Linked DNA regions of Homo sapiens: all the other regions are linked to region 1. The links come from fine-mapping of genetic effects on gene expression. A gene starts in region 1. Each other region holds a variant in brackets. All regions are shown on one strand. Distances are from middle to middle.

Region 1 (5,199 bases):
ACAAAATCATGAGGACACTGTAATCTATAAATGATGTGTTGAGACTGGAAACACAGAATGATGTTAAATGAGGGTAGTGCTAATGCCCTCAGTCTTAGTCACAATTTCACCTAGGTTGTTAAATAAAAATCATGGGATGCCATTGTTTTCAACCAAATTCCTGCATCAGGCCTCCAGATCAGACTAAAAATCAAAATGGTGTCACCCATGTTCACCAAAACAAAACTGAGTTATCTGGTTTTCCAAAAAATGGTAAGAGAGATAGCCAATTTTCCAAACAGAAGTTTCAATCTTTAACAGGCATGATAATGAAATTTCCTGTTTTAATCCTTAAAATAGAATACCTGAAGTAACCCAATGTTAACCAATCAGTTTTCTTTCTACTGTTCTGTCTCCACGTCTCCACCTTAAAGAAAAGTGACTTTGATATAACCAATCTGCTTTTTGTTGTTTCTGCCTTCTTCAGTCTATTTTCTGTCTCTAAAGTTAACATCCTCTGCTTGATTCATTGCAACATTTATTCTATTTTGTGGAATGAAGTTTTGTCCAATTCTAGGAGTGCAATAATGCCAATGAGATCTTGAATCTCAATTTGTTTTACTTTTGTTTCTTGACAATGGAGAGGTTTAGGCTAGAGAGCATTTTCAAAGTCATGAGCATATAGACTTCAAGTCAACCAGTTAGATGAGATCACCTGGTGATAAAATAGAGAAGAATGCAAGGACCGAGCCCTGGAGCAGTCCAACATTTAAAGATTGAGCCAAAGAGGAGAAACCAGCATATCAAAAAGGAGGCCCAGTGAGGGAACAGGACTATCTGTGACGTGTAGGTAAGTTCAGGGGGAAAAGTGTTTCAAATCAAAGGAACCATGTCAATTATTCGCGATTCTACAGAGAGGTCAATTGAGATATGGATAGAGAATTGGCAATTGCCTTTGGAAACAAGATCATTAGTAATCTTGATAAGTGATACAGATGATGGAAGCCAAAGCTCGATCAGGGTAGACTGAGAAGTGAATGTGAAGTGAGAGGTAGGAACAAGCACTATTGGAGAGATCTTGAAAAACCTTTCTAAGAATTTATGAAGATAGCAGAAAAATAGGGCAGTTCCTAGAGGCGATTTTGGAGTCAAAGGAAGTTTATTTTAGATGGGAGAAATTTCAATATATTTATATGCTGATAGGAGCAATTCAATTGAGAGGGAAAAAACTAACGATGCTGGAGGGTAGGTAATTGTAAGAGTAAAATCCTTAGGAATGTGCGTGAAAAAAATCCGGTCACTGGTAAAGGGACTGGCCTTCCTAGGCGCAGGGACACTTCATTCATAGCAACCCAAATGTTACTATGCAGATAAGGGTGGTTTTGATGGTGAGAAGATAAGGGAGTTTATTTCTGATATCTTTCATTTTTTCCATGAGTTATGAGGCAAAGTTGATTAGTAAAAGTGGGGGTTGGGGAGGAGGTATATAGAAGGCTTTCAGTAGAGACGAAAAGGAATGAAATAATCCTTCCATCAAGTCTACTTAAATGTCAATTTAGTGGATAAAACCCTCCCAGAATTAAGTACATCTCCCAAACCCTTTCTCTCTCTCAATGACCTTTTGCTCCTTTCTGGTACTCACTAACATTTGCAATTGTATCTTTGTTCGTTCACTTCTCTGATTCCCCATTAGAGAACTACAGAAGGGCACGGACTTTGATTTCAAAATGTATATTTAGCCGTTAGCACAAGGCAAGCAGATGGTCACTAAATAAATACTTTTTTAAACAAAAATGTTAATGAACACCTTCAAAATTTTGTCTTACGCCACCTCGTTAAAATACTTGTTTGTGCAAGTCACTTTTCCTCTCTGAGCTTTCATTTCTGAATCTATACCATGGGAATTATCTCTTCCTTGCCTACCTCCCCTCGTTATCAAGAGGATCTGAGCCAATAATGATAGAAATGCTTCATTAAGGGCCCCTTAAATGTAATGGATTTCTATTTTTAGCCCACTGGTAGCCTCGCAGGTAGCAGGTGCTGAAAAAGCCTTGCTTATTGGGGGTTGGGGGACAGCATTGTTTCTGTGACCGTAGGCGTCGAAGCTATGCAGAAGCGTTCCGCGGACCGCAGAGAGATGGGGCTCAGGCCAGCATCCCTCTCGCTCCGGCCCTTCCCGGGAGGAGCTGGCCGAGCTAGGATGGGGGGCAGGGAGACCGAGGGGGCAGTAACTGTCAAACCTCGCCGCTTGGCGCCATTATTTAAATGGAACGTGCCTGTCTCGCAGCTGTACGTGCCCGGGGCGGGGCTTCGAGCGCCCTGAGCGGGGCGGAGGCTAGAGGCGGGCTGGGAAGGTGGAGGGGCGGGCCGGGGCGGGGCCAGGCCGGCTAGAGGGGCGGGTCTAGCGGCGGCCCCCGGCGAAGTTCACTGCGCTTGCGCTGACAGACGCAAGATGGCGGACAGTGCGGAACTAAAGGTAAAGCGCAGCTCGAATTCACTTCTAATATTCGGCCGCGGAGACGGCGCCGCTGCTGCCAGGGGGGATGGGTCCGACCCTGGGGGGCCTCTCGGGCCTGACTCCACCCGGGCCTGGAGTTGTAGGGAGAGAGGCGCGCCCGGTCTCAGCAGAGGGGGCCCGCCTGCGGCGGGCCGCGGGCCCCGGGTGCCTCGGGGGCGCTGACGGGTCGTCCCCGGCGTGTTATTGTTGTGGGCGCCTCTGGCGGGGGTGGCGGGGGAAGAGATAGGGAGTCCGGAGGTAGGGGCTGCAGCTGTCTCATGGGCTCGGCTTTTTCACCTTCCAGTTAGCCTCCCTGCCCCCCATGGGGAGCTGGGGCTGGGGGCAGGGTGCTCTCGTAGGGGGGATTGGGAAAGCTCCCCGTGGCCGCTTCCTCTTCCTCCTTTGCAGTCCCGGGCTCCTGTCAGGCGCTCTTCTCAGACCCCCGGGAACTTGGCTTCGGCCGCCCCGCCCCTCCGTGGATCCCAGTAGCCCCCGCCCCGGACTCGGCTTTCCCCGGCTGCTCGCTTGTCAGGAAGCGCCTGGGGTGCCCCGCTTGTGGGAAGCGCGATCCCGGGGCGATAGGGTGGGGATCTGGGGGAGAAGCTCTGGTAAAGTTTAGCGAGCCCCGGGCCGGCGTTGGGGTTCGGCTGAGAGGTAGTGAGCGGGACGTTACTCTTTCTCTCTGATTCCGGGCAGCCGAGGGGAGAAACCCCCTCGAAGAGTGTGTCTTTGGAAGCAGTGTTGGGAGGGGGGGATGCAGCTACCTCTCTCCCTTCTTTTGCCTTAGCTGGTGTGGAGGGTGAGAGGAGCCTTTGGGGGTCTCTGCACACACCATGATGGCGATGCTGTAGCTGATGGAGGTGAATGGTTCGTGTTTATATCCCCCCATTGCCTTTTGTTTGTAGGGACATCTTGCTGGCCATGTTGATTTGAACGAAATTCTCCCCTCATGCTACTCCAACCCCCGATAAATAGAACGTTCCTCTTAACAGTACCAATTACTCACGCCTCACGAAATTAGATGAAAGGGTGCCCCCTTTTCCCCGCTTTTCTCCCACCCCAATCTTTACCTGATGATGGCTTCTTTACCGTAGCAGATATACCACTACACAAGCAGTTGGGGGAGGGGGTGGTGGAACCCTTATGACTGGATTGTGACAAATGGGGCTCCGCTTGAATAATTTTGGTTTAGTAGCAGGCAGTTCTTAACTAACGCGTATTATTTCGAGGCTCTGAACGCGATCTTCTCTGTGGCTTCCTGTGTGTGTGAACCCAGCAGCTGGTTATGTCTCGACCCAGAGAACTGACATCTCTGTCAGAGAGGAGATGGGGATATACAATTGTAAATCTTTGGGGAGAGTCTTCTTTTTATAATAAATAAAAATTATTTAATTTTTTCCCCGTTATAATGAAACGACAACTTCTAGAACAACCAAATGCCAGATTTGATTCTGTAGAGTTTTTCCTGTGGAATATCCTCACCGAAAGAGCTTTTCTCCTAATAACTTCACAATGTTTACACTCCAAGATTCGTATGTTAAGGTATTGGCTTTGAGTGTCATTCTTTTAAAATGTACTTCTAATTACAAATTTACTGAAGGGAGAGCAGATTTACAATGGATGGTTTTGATTTTTCCCCAGTTTCAAACTATTGACTGAAATGAGAAAGCCTTAGGAATTTGAATATTTGGAGATAATTAACCCTTGAAATAAAAAAAAGCACACAACTTTAAGACATGTTTTCTATAATTTTTCTCTTAGAGTCACTATGTTGCTGTGATCTTTGCCTTGTAATATTTATTTTGTTAGGAGTTCTTTTGAATGATAGCTAATCAGTTGTTATACATGGACCATAGAATAAAGCTGAAAAGCATGTGCAGACTATATTGTCACTCTTGATGCTGTCCAAAGAAACTAGTATGGAAAGCACATGCTGAGAGATTTCCTTCTTTGTTCTTTCTCATTTTAAGAAAGTGCCTTTGGGGATAGATCAGATCCCTGGTGTGAGTCTTGTTAGGTAAAGTTTCTCTTTACGAAAATGAACCAGTATCAGATAAACACCAAACACTTGAAGAAATGTTATTTTTCTAAAATTAATCTCGTTTTTTGTGCTCTCCCAAATCTACTAGAGTTTTTCCAGAGGAAGTTTTTTTTTTCTACTCTTATGTTCCTGTTGTATAATTTTTCAAATTATAATAACTGTTTTGACATGTTGGTATGTCATTGTGTGTGTCTGAGACTTTGAGGAGCTGTGTGATAAATTGCTTAGCTGGTGATAGCGGCGTTAAAAAAATTTGGTTAATACTTTATTGTGGTTAGATTTGCTGTTCTTTTTTTGAGGGGTGGAGGAGGTGATCTCAGGAACGCCTACCATAGTTATTTGAGAATGTGTTAAAAAAAAGAGAATGTGTATATATAATTTTCTGTGCAGTAAGGTTTGGCAGATACTCCTTTTGGAAATGATATTTTCTGAAGGCTTTTTGTTTGTGATTTTTTGGAGGTAAATATCATACATTCCTAATATGATAGGAAAAATCAGAGTAAGAAGAAAAAAATCTAGATTTTTTGAAATTTTAAATGGGAATAGAGTACTTCAACTGTGAAGCTTTACATAAAACTCAGTGACTTTTCATTATTTTAGGTTTCAGCCCCATACTTCATTTTGCTGTGGATTGTATTCATAATTATTTTCCTCATGGCTTTTTTAGTGAGTCCTTTTAAAT
Region 2 (5,199 bases), 99 kb before region 1:
CTAAAAAGAAATGAGCTATCATGCCATGAAAAGACATAGAGGAAATTTAAATGCATATTACTAATGCATTTTCCAATGTGAAAATGTTGCAGACTGTATAATACCAGCTATAGAGCATTCTGGAAAAGCCAAAACTATGGAGACAGTAAAAAGATTAGTGGCTGCCAGGGGTTAGAAGGGAGAGAGGTATGAATAGGCAGAGCATGAAGGATTTTTAGGTCAGTGAAACTATTCTGTGTGATGCATGTCATTATACATACGTCATTATACATGTATACAATGGTAGATACATGTCATTATATGTATGTCAAAATCCATAGAATGTATACCACCAAGAGTGAATCCTAATGTAAACTATGAACTTTGGGTAATAATGCTGTACCCATGAAGGTTCACTGCTTGTAACAAAGGTACCATTGTGGTATGGGATGTTGATAGTGGAAGGCTGTGCGTACGTGGGGACAGGAGTGGGGATGGGAACTCTCTGTACTTTCTACTCAGTTTTTTTGTGAACCCAAAACTGTCCTAAAAAGTAAAGTTTATTAATTTTATAAAATGGTTAAGATGGTAAATTTTATGTTATTTTTATTTATTTATTTATTTATTTATTTATTTTTAGCACAATTTAAAGAATCTAGAACTGGGCATGGTGGCTCACACCTGTAATTGCAGCATTTTGGGAGGCCAAGGCGGGAGAATCACTTGAGCCCAGGAGTTCAAGACCACCCTGGGCAACATGGTGAAAACTCCATCTCTACAAAAAAAAATACAAAACTTAGCCAGGCATGGTGGTGCATATGTCACCAGCTACTCAGGAGCTGAGGCCAGAGGAGCCTGGGAGGTTGAGGCTGCAGTGAGCTGTGACTGCACCACTGCACTCCAGCCTGAGTGACTAAGCAAGACCCTGTCTCAAAAAGAAAAAAAAAAAATGAAAAGGGAAATTAAAATAAAAAAAAAAACCACACACACTGCAAAGTCTCACTTTCATTCCATCCTGTTCTTGTCGAAGAGGCAACCATTTAAATTTATCCTTTCAGTGTTTTTATGCAACTTCCACAAATATAAGTAATGCATATGTTTTTCTCTTCCTTTCATTCACAGAAAGTAACATCCTATATACACTGGTCTACACTTCCTGTATATTGTGTTTTCACTTAACAATCTATCCTGGAGATCTGTATTAAGCAGTGCTGTCCAATAAAATAGTCACTACCCATATATGGCTATTAAGCAAAAATTAAATACAATTAAAATTTAGCTGGGTGCAGTGGCTCACGCCTGTAATCCCAGCACTGTGGGAGGCTGAGGCAGGTGGATCACTTGAGGCCAGGAGTTGGAGACCAGCCTGGCCAACATGGCAAAACCCCGTCTCTACTAAAAATACAAAAATTAGCCAAGTGTGGTGGCACGAACCTATAATCCCAGCGACTGGGGAGGCTGAGGCACAAGAATGGCTTGAACCCAGGAGGCAGCAGTTGCCGTGAGCCAAGATAGCACCACTGCACTCCAGCCTGGGTGACAGAGTGAGACTCTGTCTTAAAAAAAAACAAGATTAGTTCCTTAGCTGAACTATTCACATTTCAAGCAGTCAATAACCACATGCGGCTGATGGCTACCATTTGTCCAAGAATAGAATATGTCCATTATCACAGAAATTTCTTTCAGAAAGCACTGGTTATAAACATCTTCCTCCTCCTTTTTTACAGCCATATAATACTCCACTGTGTAACAGTTTATTCTACCAATCCCTTCCTGGAGACATTTGAGTTGTTTGCACTATTTTGCTGTCATAAACAGTGCCCTATCATCACATGAGTTTTTGTGGAATAGGTTCTGCACTAACAAAAGGCATGGTAAGATAAGGCTGTGACCTGAGGCAGTGATTGCTCTGCAGGCAGGCCATACCAGGGTGGGATTTCTACTTCCGTGGATCTACTCAGTCCTTAGCTATGCAAATCTGGAAATGTTCAGGCTGATGTCACATTAGCCACACTCATAAGACACTATTGGGCATCAAAAATGAGCAATTACTTGATATTAAATGGAGGTAGTTCTTTAGATTTAGTGAAATCCTCGTGTCTGCTGCCTAAGACATTGCCTTCCCAGAAGGTAAGCCTTGCCCAGGGGAAATGGATAATTCTGACACATATTTCATCCAGACATGACAGGTTCCTGTTCCTAA[A/G]CCAAGTATGCCTCTCCTTTTATCGGAAAGCTTGTGTTCACTAGGATCACCATTTCCTGTGCAGCATTTTCCCCTGGGCCATCTTTGCACAGATGCCTGGGAAACTATTCCTCTTCTGCCAGCTCTTTCTTCAGGCAGTACACAGTGTGCTCGGGAGGTTTCACCTTGTTTGGTGATGGTCATGTTTCAGTGCAGTTTCAAGTCCTCCCCAAATTCTTCAGTTATATAACCACAATGTCTTCAATATTGCTATTGTGACATATGGTGGTTTTAAAATACGCCTAAAAATTCTTTACTACTCTGCTCTTCAAGTGATGAAATTAGCTGAGCATGGTGGCATGTACCTGTAGTCCTAGCTACTCAGGAGACTGAGGCAGGAGGATCACTTGAGTCCAGGAGTTCAAGTCTGCAGTAAGCTATGATCATGCCACTGCACTCCAGCCTGGGCCACAGAGCGAGACCTTGTCTCTTAAAAAGAAAAAAAGATGGAACTTAATTCCCTTCCTGTTGAGGGTGGACCGGACTTTGTGACGTACTTGTAATGAATAGCATGTGGCAGAAGTAACAGTGCGTGCAGCTTCTGTGATTAGGTCTTAAAAGGGAATGTGGCTTCCTCCCTGTCTGGCTTTCTTGAATTATTCATTCAGGGTAGGCCAACTGCCATTTCATGAAGACACTCAACTAGTCCTGTGGAGAGGTCCACGTGGTGGGAACTGAGGTTTCCTGCTAAAACCCAGCACTAACTTGCAGGGTGAGTGTCTTCATGCATTTTGTGCTGCTCTAACAGAATACCTGAGACCGGGTAATTTATAAAGAGCAGTAATTTATTTCTTCACAGTTCTACACACTAGGAAGTCCAAGATTAAGACAGCGGCATCTGGCAAGGGCCTTCTTGCTGTGTCATCACATGGCAGCAAGGCAAAGAGAGAGAAAAAGAGGGGATGAACTCATCCTTTTGTAACAGTATCAATCCCACCTCTGAGGGCAGAGCCATTACGACCTAATAACCTCTTAATGTTCCACCTCTTAATACTATGACAATGTCAGTTAAATTTAAAGACAGATATTCAAATCATGGTGCCAGGTGCAAGAGCCACCTAGGAAGTGGATTCTCCAGGCCTCATCCAGCATTCGGACGATTGCAGACCTGGTCAACTTCTTGAAAATCTCATGGGAGACCGAGTTAGAACCGCCCAGCCAAGCTGTTCCTGACCCACAGAGACTGTGTGAAATACTAAGTGTTTATTGTTTTATGCTACTAAATTTGGGGAAAATTCATTAGCAGCAACAGATAGCTAACATATCTAGATGGCTGAGATCATCCGTTTTTGTTTTGATCCTTATTAATTTCCCTCTTGCAGGGTTATCTTGACTTCTAATCTACAGGGACACTCGAGAACACTAACCTGTGAACCATCATTTTCTTATCTGTAAAATGCAAGATTGGTATGAAGGGCACAAAGCAGGGACTTAAATGGAAATGATTAATATTGTTGTCGATGCTCATTAATAATGGAAGCCTTGGGTATCTTCCATTTGCCCCTCCATATCCATGTCCATTTCCAATCTTTTCTCACCCTACTCTGTGCCCCAGGAGGGGCTGACTTCCATGGACTATGTCAGTGGCCTCTCTGGTTCTCAGCCTTCCGGTAGAGTTTGGCAAATGAGAAATACTGGCAGGAGATAGGAGGAGGGCCAGAGGAAAGGGATGTATTTCCTTGGTTTCTTCCTTTCCAAGTCACCATGCTTTATCTTCATTCCTCTACCTCAGGCCACCCTGTCTTGGTACTGGTAACTACTGTCTCCTCTCTCCCCTCCAGGCCTCTGAATGATAACTGCTCCCCTCTTTTGCTAGCCCCAGGGTGTGTCAGTGTCCTTTGGTGGGCTCCCTAAGCTCTGTCTGCACAACTTTGTAAATAGTCCCTGTATTAAACTCACCTCAAATTGTATAGATCCCCTGCAGGGATCCTAAATGAGAATGGCTAGTTTTAGTTGCTTTTAATAATGATCCTGGATTTTTTAAAAGAAACAAACATTCTATAACCAGAAAGATTTCTGAGAATCCAAATAGATACAAGATTGAGCTTAGAAAAATCTAAAGAAATGGTTGTTTAGAATATCCCAACTTGAATTATCTGGCAAATGTACGTATCACAGATATGAAAGGAACCTTGTTTCCCTCCTGAGAGCAAAACCCAGAACCTCCAAGCAAAACCCAGGACCTCCAAAGTCGTCTGTGGAAGGAGTATAGCTGGAGTAAGACAGCAGGGAGAGCCAGGCGCCATGGCTCACACCTGTAACCCCAGCACTTTGGGAGGCTGAGGTTGGCGGACCACTTGAGATCAGGAATTTGAGACCAGCCTGGCCAACATGGTGAAACCCCATCTCTACTAAAAACACAAAATTTGTTGGGTGTGATGGCGCATGCCTGTAATTCCAGCTACTCGGGAGGCTGAGGCAGGAGAATCACTTGAACCTCGGAGGCGGAGTTTGCAATGAGCCAAGATCTCGCCATTGCACTCCAGCCTGGGAGACAAGAGCAAGACTCCATCTCAAAAAGAGAGCAGTAAGACCAGTGGGAGAGGGCAGTTGGCCAGCCTTGACAGTGTTTCCTGAGAGGACACTTCTCACCCTGAATGCTACTGCCTCCTGCCCACAGGGTGTTGCTGCTTCTCTTTCATGCTTTCCCTAGAACTTCAACAACAGCAACAAAAGCTTTATAGATATTTAAGGAGACCAAAAAGGAGAAAGCCTGAGGAAGAGCCATCCACTTAGGCTGCTCCTCATCCTACTGGAATGAGGAAGTGTAGCTTGGATTCCCAGCCTGGCTGACTTCTCCAAGCGTTGACATCTGTCCCACCCCATGGGGCCAACACACCTTCCCAGGCACCTGCCTGAGTTTCTCATCTTCGAAGTGGGCATAATACTATATTGAGAGGGTTCATCTATGTAAAGTGCCTGGGACAGTGTTGACACCCTGTATGTGCTAATTTTAATAGCAGCAGCAGCAGCTGTAG
Region 3 (5,000 bases), 140 kb before region 1:
TGTGTATATATATATATATATATATATATATATATATATATATATGAAATGAAATACTCAGCCTTAAAAGAGGAGGAAATTCCCATAAATGCTACAACATGAATGAACCTTGAGGACGTTATGCTAAGTGAAATAAGACACACACACACACACACACACACATACACACACACACACACACTGTATGATTCCCCTTATTTGAGATATCTAGAATAGTCAAAAATCATAGAGACAAAAAGTAGAATGGTTGTTGCCAGGGGTTAAGGAAAGAGAATGGGGAGTTAGTGTTTAGTGGGTATAGAGTTTCAGTTTGGGAAGATAAAAGTTCTGGAGATAAATGGTGGTGATCATTGTGCAGCAGTGTGAATGTACTTAACACCACAGAACTGGTCAATTTGGCCAGGCATGTTGGCTCACACCTGTAACCCCAGCACTTTGGGAGGCCATAGTAGGAGGATTGCTTGAATCTAGGAGTTTGAGACCAGCCTGAGCAACATAGAAAGACCCAATCTCTACAAAAAATTTAAAAATTAGCTGGGCATAGTGGTGAACATCTGTAGTCCCAGCTACTTGGGAGGCTGAGGTGGGAGGATTGCTCAAGTCTGAGAGGTTGAGGCTGCAGTGAGCCGTGATTGCATCACTGCATTCCAGTCTAGGTGACAGAGCAAGACCCTATCTCCAAAAAAGAGTAAATCTGATGTTATATATATTTTGCTACCATAAAAACAAACAAGCAAACACCAATCTCCTTTTCCTTCCATTCCTTCTTTAATTATAGTTTTAGGAATTTCCCCCATATGTTCTATTATCAACAACAGCAATGATTAACAAAGAAACATTTTGTAGAGTGTTTTTTTTCCCACAATAACTATAACGATTATATTATTTTCCAGTAAATGTGATCATTACGGTTATATAGGCTTTCATGTTCAAACACATTTAATGCTTACCACCAGCCTGTTTATACCTCAGTTTTCTCCTATGTCAGTTCTAAATTTGGATTCATCATCTGTCTCTAACATGTCCTCAAGTAGAGTGATATATTTCCTGGTGAAATAATGATGAGAAGCTATGTCTTACGTAATGTCTTTAGAGGAAGACCTTCAGGTCTCAGTGGTAACAGCTCCTCCCCTGTGGCTGCAGGCTATGGGATTGTAGCACCATCCTCTTGGTTTCCCTTAACTCTTGCCTATACCTCGTCAATAATCCCTTTACTAAACTCTCTTCCATTACCAAGCTTGTGAGTGGCTTGTTTCCAGCTGGGACTATGACTGATACAGCCTCTGCCGCCTCTGCTCTCCAAGCACCCCTTCCTTCCTATCTCCTCTCCCTCTCTTTCTTTTCCTTTTTCCATCTTCCACTCTTATCCCTCCTTATTCTTTTCCTCCTCCTCCCTTTTGGAGTGAGGTGACATGTGGGCTATGTAGGTTAGCATATCACGCTCCGCATCTGGCCCCTGGCTGCCCTTGTCCCTGGGTGGTCAAGAACAGAGTATTCCTTCTTTCTGAGCTGCTCAGTGTTCTGGCTGCTTTTCAGAATGTGCAGCCCATCCCCCAGCCTCTCAGAAGCCCCACCCCAGCCAGCAGCCTGACAGAGCTCACAATTCTGTTTTAAGCTTACTCCCTTACAACTAGTTTTATTTCCTAGTCTGACATCTTGGGAGGATGGGTGAGACCAAATCTGTTACATCAGTGTCTAGATGGAGCATTCGCTAGTTCAGGCCAAGACATTATGAGTTTCATTTTTATGGCTCTCCCAATCCTTGTGTGTGCAGATTTTATTGTGTTAGGAGTTAAAAATGTAATAAGCAAGGAGAAAAAAAAAATTAAGTCACTTCAGCTAAAGACTACAGCCTAACAAAATCCTTAACAGACGCTTGTTAGTCCTGTTGCTGGGAAGTATTTGTCCAGCAGACCTGGAACAGTTTAAAAAAGGAGTGGGGGTTTGGTTAACATTAAAGAAACACAAAGATTTTTCATCTGGCTCTGGGGGAGACCAGAGCCACAGAGGGAACAAGAAAAGAAAGAGGGGATTGAACATTTTTGCAAACAAATGATAAAACTGCCTTTTAAAGAAGGAGGGGGGATCCCTTGTCCAAACAAGACTTCTGCCAGGGTAGGAAATCATTTCTGCAATTGTTTACAATGCTCAGGCAGCCGGTCCTAAGTCAACATGGCCTGGGAGCGTTGCCCTGGAGCCTCCTGCCTTTGCCAGCCGCCTGCCATCTCGAGCTCAGCTATTTCTGGGACTTAGCTCCCTCCCTTGAAAAACAAACCGTGGCCCTCACTGTCATACCCAATAA[A/AC]CCCCCCAGTTTGTGCAGCCTTAATCATGTTTTCCAGAAGAGTTCTCCAACTGACGGCCTGGATGCAATGTGTTGGGCTCAGGAGAGCCAGTATGTGTGGGGGAAGGGAAGCTCTCATTTGTGGATGCCAAGATGGAAATTTCCATTGCAGTACAAGATGGCTTCACCTGTGGCCAAGGAAACCTACTTCATCTCAAAGAGGAGAACTTGGCTAATGAACAGCCTGAAATTTATGTCCTTTCTTACAGTTTGTTCCATAAACCCAGAGCAAAGTTTGCTTTTACTAAAAAGCACCATAATTACTAGTCATAACCCTTCACATCTGGTTGTCACTTAGTGTAGAAGTCTTTTCACTTCTGTTATCTCATTTGTTCTCCACCATGAGAAAGGCATTATTAGTCCCATTTATTTACCTTTTTTGAAAAAAAAAAAAAAAAAAAAAAAAGATGAGATCTCACTATGTTTCTCAGGCTGGTCTTGAGCTCCTAAGCTCAAGTGATCCTCCTGTCTTGGCCTCTCAAAGTGCTAGGATTACAGGTGTGGACCACTGTACCCAGTCAATCCCATTTATTTAATTAATCCATCTATTTGTCTCCTTATTTGGTGTTAATAATACAGTCATGTGGCTTGAAAATTTTAAATTCCAGTGAAAAGATGTCTTCTCTTCTACTCTTCCACAATTCTTCTGGTCTCTATCTGCCCACAGGTAACCACTACTGTTCATTTTTCTGTGTATCTCTCCAGAGATGCTTTATGTATATCTAAGCAACTTGGGGTGGTACAAGGAGAAAGAGTATTGCAGAGAGACAGAAAAGTCCCAGGCACTAGGCCTAGCTCTGTCTCCAGTTGGCTGTTTGACATTGTGCATGCTACTTTCCCTCTCTGAACCTCACTTACCTCACTTACGTCATCTGTGAAAATGAGAATAAAAGCTAACATTCATTAGGCTTATATGTGCCTGCCACTGTGATAAGTGTTTTTATATGTGTTAGTTGAATTAAGCTCGCTACAGTCCTATAAGGAGGCACTGTAAGTCCCATTTATCCATGACAAACTGAGGCACAGAGAAATTAAATATCTTGCCCAGGTCCTAGTTAATTAGAGGGAGAGCCTGGGTTTTATGAAGCTAGGTAGTCTAACAGTAGAGCTCATTCACCACTTAAACCCCTGCGCTATATACGGCCACTCATTTATGATACTGGCACTACCAAATGATGGCTTGAAACAGGAGGCTGCCCCAGAGTGGTTCCTCCCAATTTAGGTATCTAAAATCCTATGTCCAGTTCCCATAAAACCCTGGCCAGGCAGCTCTGAGTCACTCAGCCCCATTCAGATGGGATGGTGACAGCTGGCAAAGAGCAGCAGACAGCAGGGCAAGGCTCAGGCATGAACCCTGATGTCAGACCAGTGCTTCCCCCTGTGTCCCTCCAGGGGAATCAGGACAACTCCTTAATAAGAATTTCTTATTTTTTATCAGAGGTAGTAACGCACGTAATTTAAAAAGCCAACTCATATTCAGAGACAAAAGACAGCAGCCCAGAACAAACACTTTTAACTCCTTTGGTTAGTTCTGTATATATTTATCTCCCTTATTCTTGTCAACCTTAAATAATATTCAGAAAGTATGATTAAATATAGAGTTCATTTGAGCCCAAAGCTTGAGGATGGCCACCCAGGAACATGGATTCAAGTTGCCCTGAATATACATTCTAATTAGCAGCACCTACAAATGGGTTTTTAAAGGGAAAAAAAGAAGAGGCAGTTCCTAAGTTGTTTAACAAGAATTTACATTAAAGTAACATAAGCTATTAATTGGTTATACATTGTTCTTTGTATCACAAATTCTAGGAACATGAAGATAATGGGTGAGGCCAGCTAGTCAGGAACAAAATGCCTTTAAACAATTGCCCCCAGGGCATGGGCGGGATGCAGAGGTGGGGGTGAGGGATGAGAGTAGGGGCCTGACTGAAGTCCCAGGTCTCTCTGAGCCAAGTAAATTTTGCATACCTCTCATAGCTTACAGCAGTCTGAGCTATTTTTCTTTTTTCATTCTAAACCTAGATAGTAAATATTTTCAGCTTTGTGAGCCATACAATCTTTGTTGCAATTTCTCAACTGCCTTATATCTAGAAAGCAGTCAGGCAATATATACATAAATGGACATGGCCATCTTCCAATACAACCTTATTTACAAAAACAGATTTTTAAAGCAAAAACAGATTTGACCTGTTGATGCGGGATTTTTCTCGGTCACTTTGCCAGCCAGAGACCTCCAGCCAGCAATACCCCTGGCCCAGGCCTTGCTCGGGCCTGGGTTCACCACAGGAGAGGCCCCATCTACTGCTGGGCTATGCCTGGCTTGCACTCCAGTGTGGGTGCTGTGTCTGCTGTGACTGTGCTGGCAGGAGGGGATGTGTGAGCCAGTGACAGCAGGGTCCAGCCAGCTGTTCTAAGAGCCGGCACAGGAGTGGGATCCATGCAGGGCTTGTGGCTGAACCAGGTGTGTCACAAGCGACTCCTGTGGTAGACTCTGGTGTCCAGACGAGGGGAATGTGGTGGCACCCAAGCAGCGGTGCCCTGGACCCTGAAGCCCAGAGGGTGTGTTACAGTGTGCTAATTAGCTCTTTTAGTCCCATTTTCCGTGGCCCAATGGATGGCAGTGTGTTAACAGCTCTGTCAGCCCCGTTGACCCGCTCCA
Region 4 (5,199 bases), 140 kb after region 1:
TTGCTTAGGACAGAGATCATTAACCACAAAAAGAAGGCCCTGCTCCCTCTGCTGACTCCACCTGCTGTCTAGAGGGCCGGGCAGTGTCCTGGGGGGAGTCTGGGAGGGAAGGATGACCCATGTCTTCCCTATCCATGTGAAAACAGCCACGAGAGGTGAACCTGGAAAAGCTGGGTATGGAGACCCAGCCTGCTGTTGGGCGATTATTTATTTATGGAGATAAAGTCTCATTCTGTCACCCAAGCTGGAGTGTAGTGGCGCAAGCTCGGCTCACTGCAACCTCCGCCTCCCAGATTCAAGTGATCCTCCTGCCTCAGCCTCCCGAGTAGCTGGGGCTACAGGCGCCCGCCACCACGCCTGGCTAATTTTTGTATGTCAGGCAATTTTTAAACTCTGCAGCAATTTTTAAACTCTCTGCACTGTGCCTTAATGGCAGTAGCTAAAATCTGAGCAGAGTGATTTGTAGAGTGGTAGCTCAGAGGGACCTGAGGGGTCACCTACTGTACCCTCATTTCCAGCAAGGAAAGCGAGGTGGGAGAAAGGTCTCCTGGCACCCAGGATTCAAACCACAGCCTCAAAGCTCTCCTCCAGTGGTTTATTGTGATTTAACCAGAGACGGAAAGTCCGTCATATTGAAGCCTCTTTCCAGCACCCACTTGTGGCCAAGCCCAGCTCTCCTGTCCAAACCACAGGCAAGCAGGGCAGCCTACCTAGAAACCCCAGGCTCTAAGGTCGGGGTCCCTGGCCTCGGGCAGAGGCAGAGCTGGCTGGCTGGCTGCTGCGAACATGGCAGGGCTAGGCAGGAGGGTCCGCAGGCTGGAAGAACAAAGGCTGTAAATGGCCTTGGCGTGGGGATCCCCTTGACAGTGTACAAAGGGCTTTCCTAGAAGACCCCAGGCCTCGTCCTGCTCTGAGGCAGGACAGCCTGCTAGGCTGCAGGAAGGTGCAAAGCAAAGACCCCTTTCTCGTGGGGCTCTGGAACCAGGAACCCTGCCTGTCTCGGCAGTTCTCCAACTGTCCTGGCAAAGTTCCCTCTGGAGCCCCTTTCTGGAAGAGCTTAGAGCAGCCTGAGTTGGAAAGGGAGCAAAGCAGCACCTCAATTCGGAAACTCGACCTCAGCAGCAACTGCAGACTGCTGTGATGGGAAAAAGGGCAGGGATGTCTAGACCTGCCTTCGCTCCTGCGCCGCTGCTTGGGAGCCGCTCACTCCCCCTGCTTCTTTATCAGTAGGAGCAGGCATTTGTGCTCCCAGGGGTGTCATGCACTAGATGAAGCCCCACAGTGAGAGCTTGAACACAGGGGGAGACCAGACTGCACGCTCCAGCTGCCCTGCCTTGTGGGTTCCGAGCTGGGTTTCCCCTAGGCTGTCCCTTCACCCTGGCAGACCTCCCTGCGCCCTTCCAGCCCCTCTAGTTCTTCCCCAGGCTCCAGTCCAGCACCCACCTAGTGTGGCATCTGCTCACAGTCTCCTGCGCGCGCATCAACAGAGGTGGTCTGTACCACCCTGGTGGCATCAGCTAGGCTTTGGTGCCCTCCTTCCAACTCCCTAACCCCCTCCAACTGTTGGGAGACAGGACCCAGGCTGTTACCTTCCTTGTGGGTGAGCTTCTCCCCCAGACTCGTGAGTTTTGACCGCAGGTCGGACGCCATGACGTAACCTTTCTTCTCCTTGTCCACCATCAACATGGCTAGAAGAATTTCTTTCTTTGGGTCTTCTTGTTTTATTTGCATGTGCATAATGGTCAGAAAAGTGGAGAAATCCAGCTCTCCATTTCCGTCTAGGAAACCCGCAAACACAGCAGAGTGAGCAGAGGGAAAAAGACTCCTAGGAAGCCAGCTGGCCTCCTGCTGGACCTGCACAGCCGGTTCAAGGTCAACTGACCAGGGAATGCCAGGATGTGGCAGTGGTCACAGTGAAGAGGATGCATCCCCTCCCACCGAGTTCCCACGACAGGCCCCTCACTGGACTGGACATTCTTCATTTCAGCAACGTCCTCAGTGACGATGCTTATCATCACCCCAAAGCTCAAGAAAGTGGGTTCCCAACCACAGATGGAGGACTGGGCTCCTCTGCTCCCTTCTAGCGCTTCCCTCCTGCCCTGAACTGGAGGGAAACAGGTCCATGTGTGCATTCCACCTTTGACAGCCACCACAGTACATCTTACCAGGATGGATCAGCACCCCCACCTGGGGTCTCAAGCCTCAGTCGCAGGCTGGGCTGCTCACCTGCCTTCCCCTCACTGCAGTCTCCATCCCAGCCCCTCCTCCACGGGCCCTGGCTGGGATGTAACTGCAGGAAATCAAAACTTCCCTGGACTACAACTTCCTGTTTGGAGGGGACAGAAATCAAGGAAACCACCACCCCTTTGGAGCTGGACATGGGGGATCTCAGGTATCAGACCACTGAGCAACCCACCGCCAGGCTGCAGGCTTTCAGAGGCCCACCTGGGCCCAGCGTGGCCTGCCCCAGGGTGGGCTCCCAGCGCAACTGCAGGCATCCTCTAGTGGGGCCTCTGGTAACCCTAGCAGATGGTGGTGACCCCCCTGAGATGAGGAAGCTGGTGACCTGAGACTGAGCAGCAGCCTATGGGCTCCGGGTCAAGTGCTATTCCCAGCGGATGCCCTTCCCCTGCGCCAGTCCCTCCTTCCTGAGTGTCCAGCCCCCAATGCAAACAGCAACCCCAGGCTCTGAAACTACTTTTTTTCTTAGAAAAAGCAAAACAAAACATAAAACTTGTTTCTGATTATGAAAAGCTGTATGTGTTCTC[A/G]TTGTTGAAAATACAGGAAACAATAAAAGGAACAAAAATCACCCATAATCCCATTACCAGAGAGAACCACTTGGTAACATCTTGGATGGGTTTTCTTTCAGCATTTTTTTTCTAGCAATAGTTTTTCTAAAAACTATTGCATAGTTTTTAGGTCAGTCTTTGATATCAGAAGAATTGGGTACTAATCCTGATGCCATCATTGGCTCAAGAACTTAATGGATGTAAACCTTGATCTTTGCTTGTAAAATGGAGTTAGGAGAAAGCTGGGCGCAGTGGCTCAGGCCTCTAACCCCAGCACTTTGGGAGGCCGAGGCAGGCAGATCACCTGAGGTCAGGAGTTCAAGACCAGCCTGGCCAACATGGCAAAACCCCATCTCTACTAAAAATGCAAAAATTAGCTAGGCGTGGTGGCAGGCACCTGTAATCCCAGCTACTTGGGAGGCTGAGGCAGGAGAATCACTTGAACCTGGGAGGCAGAGGTTGCAGTGAGCCGAGATCTCACCACTGCACGTCAGCTTCTCGGTGACAGAGCAAGACTCTGTCCCCCCTCAAAAAAAAAAGGTTAGGAGAATGCCTACTTCATAGGGTTTTTGGAGCTAAGCACATGACAAATACTCAACAAAGGGAAATGTTCCTATAAAGCAACATGGGATCGCTGTCAGCGCGATTTTTCTCTGGGTTTGGTAAGTCTGTTGGAACGCCTAGATCCCGAGGTCTGTGAGATGGGGTATCACTGGTTGCTATGAGGATTCCAGGAAGCCCAAGTGAGGTACGGCACTCCTGGTCTGGGGCTGCCACAGCTGGATCCCCAGGAGGCCTCCCTGCCACCTGCCCCTCAAACTGCTGAGCTTTTCACACCTCTACTGTCTGCACCCACCTGCTGGGCCCCTCCCCTCTCCCCGTTGTTCCCACCACCACTCACCTATCCCGTGGGTCTGCAGGTGCCGCTGCACCTCCCCTGGCGTCGGGCTGGCCCCCAGGCACCTCATGGCCACCATGAGGTCGGTGGCTTTTATCTTCCCCCTCTGCTGCTTGTCATACAGGGAGAAGCATTCCTTGTACTCTGCACACGGCCCAGAGGGAGGGTCAGCAGCGTCTGGTCACTCTCCGCCCATGCCGCCCTCCCCATCCTTAGTCTCTTCTCCCTCTTTTCCCCTTCCTTTTGCCTACTCCCTCCATCCCTCTCTCCCCTCCCAAGGGTGCTAGATACAGCAAATGAAAATACAGGACTGCCAAGTTAAACCGAATTCAGATAAACACTGAATATACTTTTATTGTATGCCCCAAATTTTGCATAGGACATATACTTCTATTGGAAAAGTATTTGTTGTTTGTCTGAAATTCTAATTTAACTGGGTGTCCTGTATTTTATCTGGCTCCCCTTCCCTTTCTCCCTACTCCCTCCCTTCCTTCTCCCTCCCCCTCCCCGCCAACCCACAGGACTGGAACTCCCAGGACAGTGCCCCTCCAGGGCCCACAGGGGAGAGCAGGAACCCACAGCAAGGCGTCCAGACCCCCAGGGGACCTCTGCAAACACAACTTTTCTGGACAATGGGAATAATAAGGCCTCAGGATTACTGTGAGAGCCAGAAATCCCAGGAGGCCTGCCAGAGAGTGGCCTTCATATGATGATATTATCATCATCATCAGAGCTGGGGCATTTCTGAGCCTATTGCCCCTGCCCTGGCCTCCAGGCTGCTAAACCCTCAAGCTGTCCTTGGACTCGGGCCCTGGTCCTGTTCTTAGAGACTTCAAAGGGTCCTGCTGGGAAATTCTCCCAGGGTCTGAAGCCCTTTCTCCTTCGGTACTTGGTGGAGGTGGAAGGCAGCCGGAGCTAGCTCCCCTAAACCCACAGACTCCCGGCCTGACACAGCCATCCCACGGGCTCCCGGCCCTGGGAGGCCCAGGAAGGCCAGCTGGGAGTTCAGGAAAAGTCCCTGAACCGCACTGACTGAGCATCTGATTTAGGGGTAGGTGGGGCTGCCATCAGGACAGGGAGATTCTCGTCCAGCCCAGACGAGGCACCCGGGCCTGTGGGTGGAGCCGTGGAAACACAGTGGCCTGGCGCTGGCCCTCCCAGGCTGGGGCTCAGGGCTCTGTTCTCTCTCCTGCTTCTCACACCACCCAGGTAGGTCCTTAGAGGCCTGGACAATAATAGCCCCTTAGCTGATGACAGCAACAATGACAATTCACGTTGCTGAGCACTCCACCCCCAGGCCCTCGCTTCATCCCCACAACCCTGTGATGCGCCCCCTCATATTCCCATGTGCGGACAGGACATTGAGGGCTGGAACACTGAGAGCCTGGCTGTGGGCAGCTCTGCCCACCAGGCCACACTGCCTTCGGTTCCAGGGCAGACACCACTGAGAGCAGTAGGGTGAGGGAGAGGATGCAGAAGGAGCCCCCCAAATCCCCAGCCCAGACCAGGGGT

Alleles and levels. Positions count from the first base shown, and alleles are read on the strand shown. Sizes are in standard deviations (SD) of each study's normalised expression. Not every link is listed here.
With allele A in place of G in region 2, the expression in tibial nerve of the gene that starts at base 2,420 in region 1 is lower (moderate effect, 0.52 SD a copy in GTEx).

Evidence for each region. PIP is the estimated chance that this variant, and not a neighbour inherited with it, causes the effect.
Region 2: its variant is fine-mapped to the expression of PIAS1 in tibial nerve (GTEx, PIP above 0.99). The same link has a PIP of 0.9 or more in aorta, breast, esophagus mucosa, esophagus muscle, fibroblasts and subcutaneous fat.
Region 3: its variant is fine-mapped to the expression of PIAS1 in skeletal muscle (GTEx, PIP 0.97).
Region 4: its variant is fine-mapped to the expression of PIAS1 in whole blood (TOPMed, PIP above 0.99).

Annotation. Positions count from the first base shown.
Region 1 is chr15:68,051,896-68,057,094 of GRCh38, forward strand. PIAS1 (protein inhibitor of activated STAT 1) reads left to right here and starts at 2,420. Exons shown (of 14, transcript NM_016166.3): 1 at 2,420-2,455. The coding sequence starts at 2,432. RefSeq lists a silencer at 2,219-2,718.
Region 2 is chr15:67,952,645-67,957,843 of GRCh38, forward strand. No RefSeq gene overlaps it. Among named protein-coding and RNA genes, the nearest start is that of PIAS1, 99 kb to the right of the region's middle. RefSeq lists an enhancer at 2,405-2,484. The variant A/G (reference allele first, on the strand shown) is at 2,183.
Region 3 is chr15:67,913,598-67,918,597 of GRCh38, forward strand. No RefSeq gene overlaps it. Among named protein-coding and RNA genes, the nearest start is that of RNU6-1, 76 kb to the left of the region's middle. RefSeq lists an enhancer at 4,831-5,000. The variant A/AC (reference allele first, on the strand shown) is at 2,303.
Region 4 is chr15:68,195,851-68,201,049 of GRCh38, forward strand. It overlaps CALML4 (calmodulin like 4), which reads right to left. Exons shown (of 5, transcript NM_033429.3): 3 at 3,691-3,831; 4 at 1,590-1,778. Among named protein-coding and RNA genes, the nearest start is that of CALML4, 6.9 kb to the right of the region's middle. RefSeq lists an enhancer at 4,671-5,199. The variant A/G (reference allele first, on the strand shown) is at 2,769.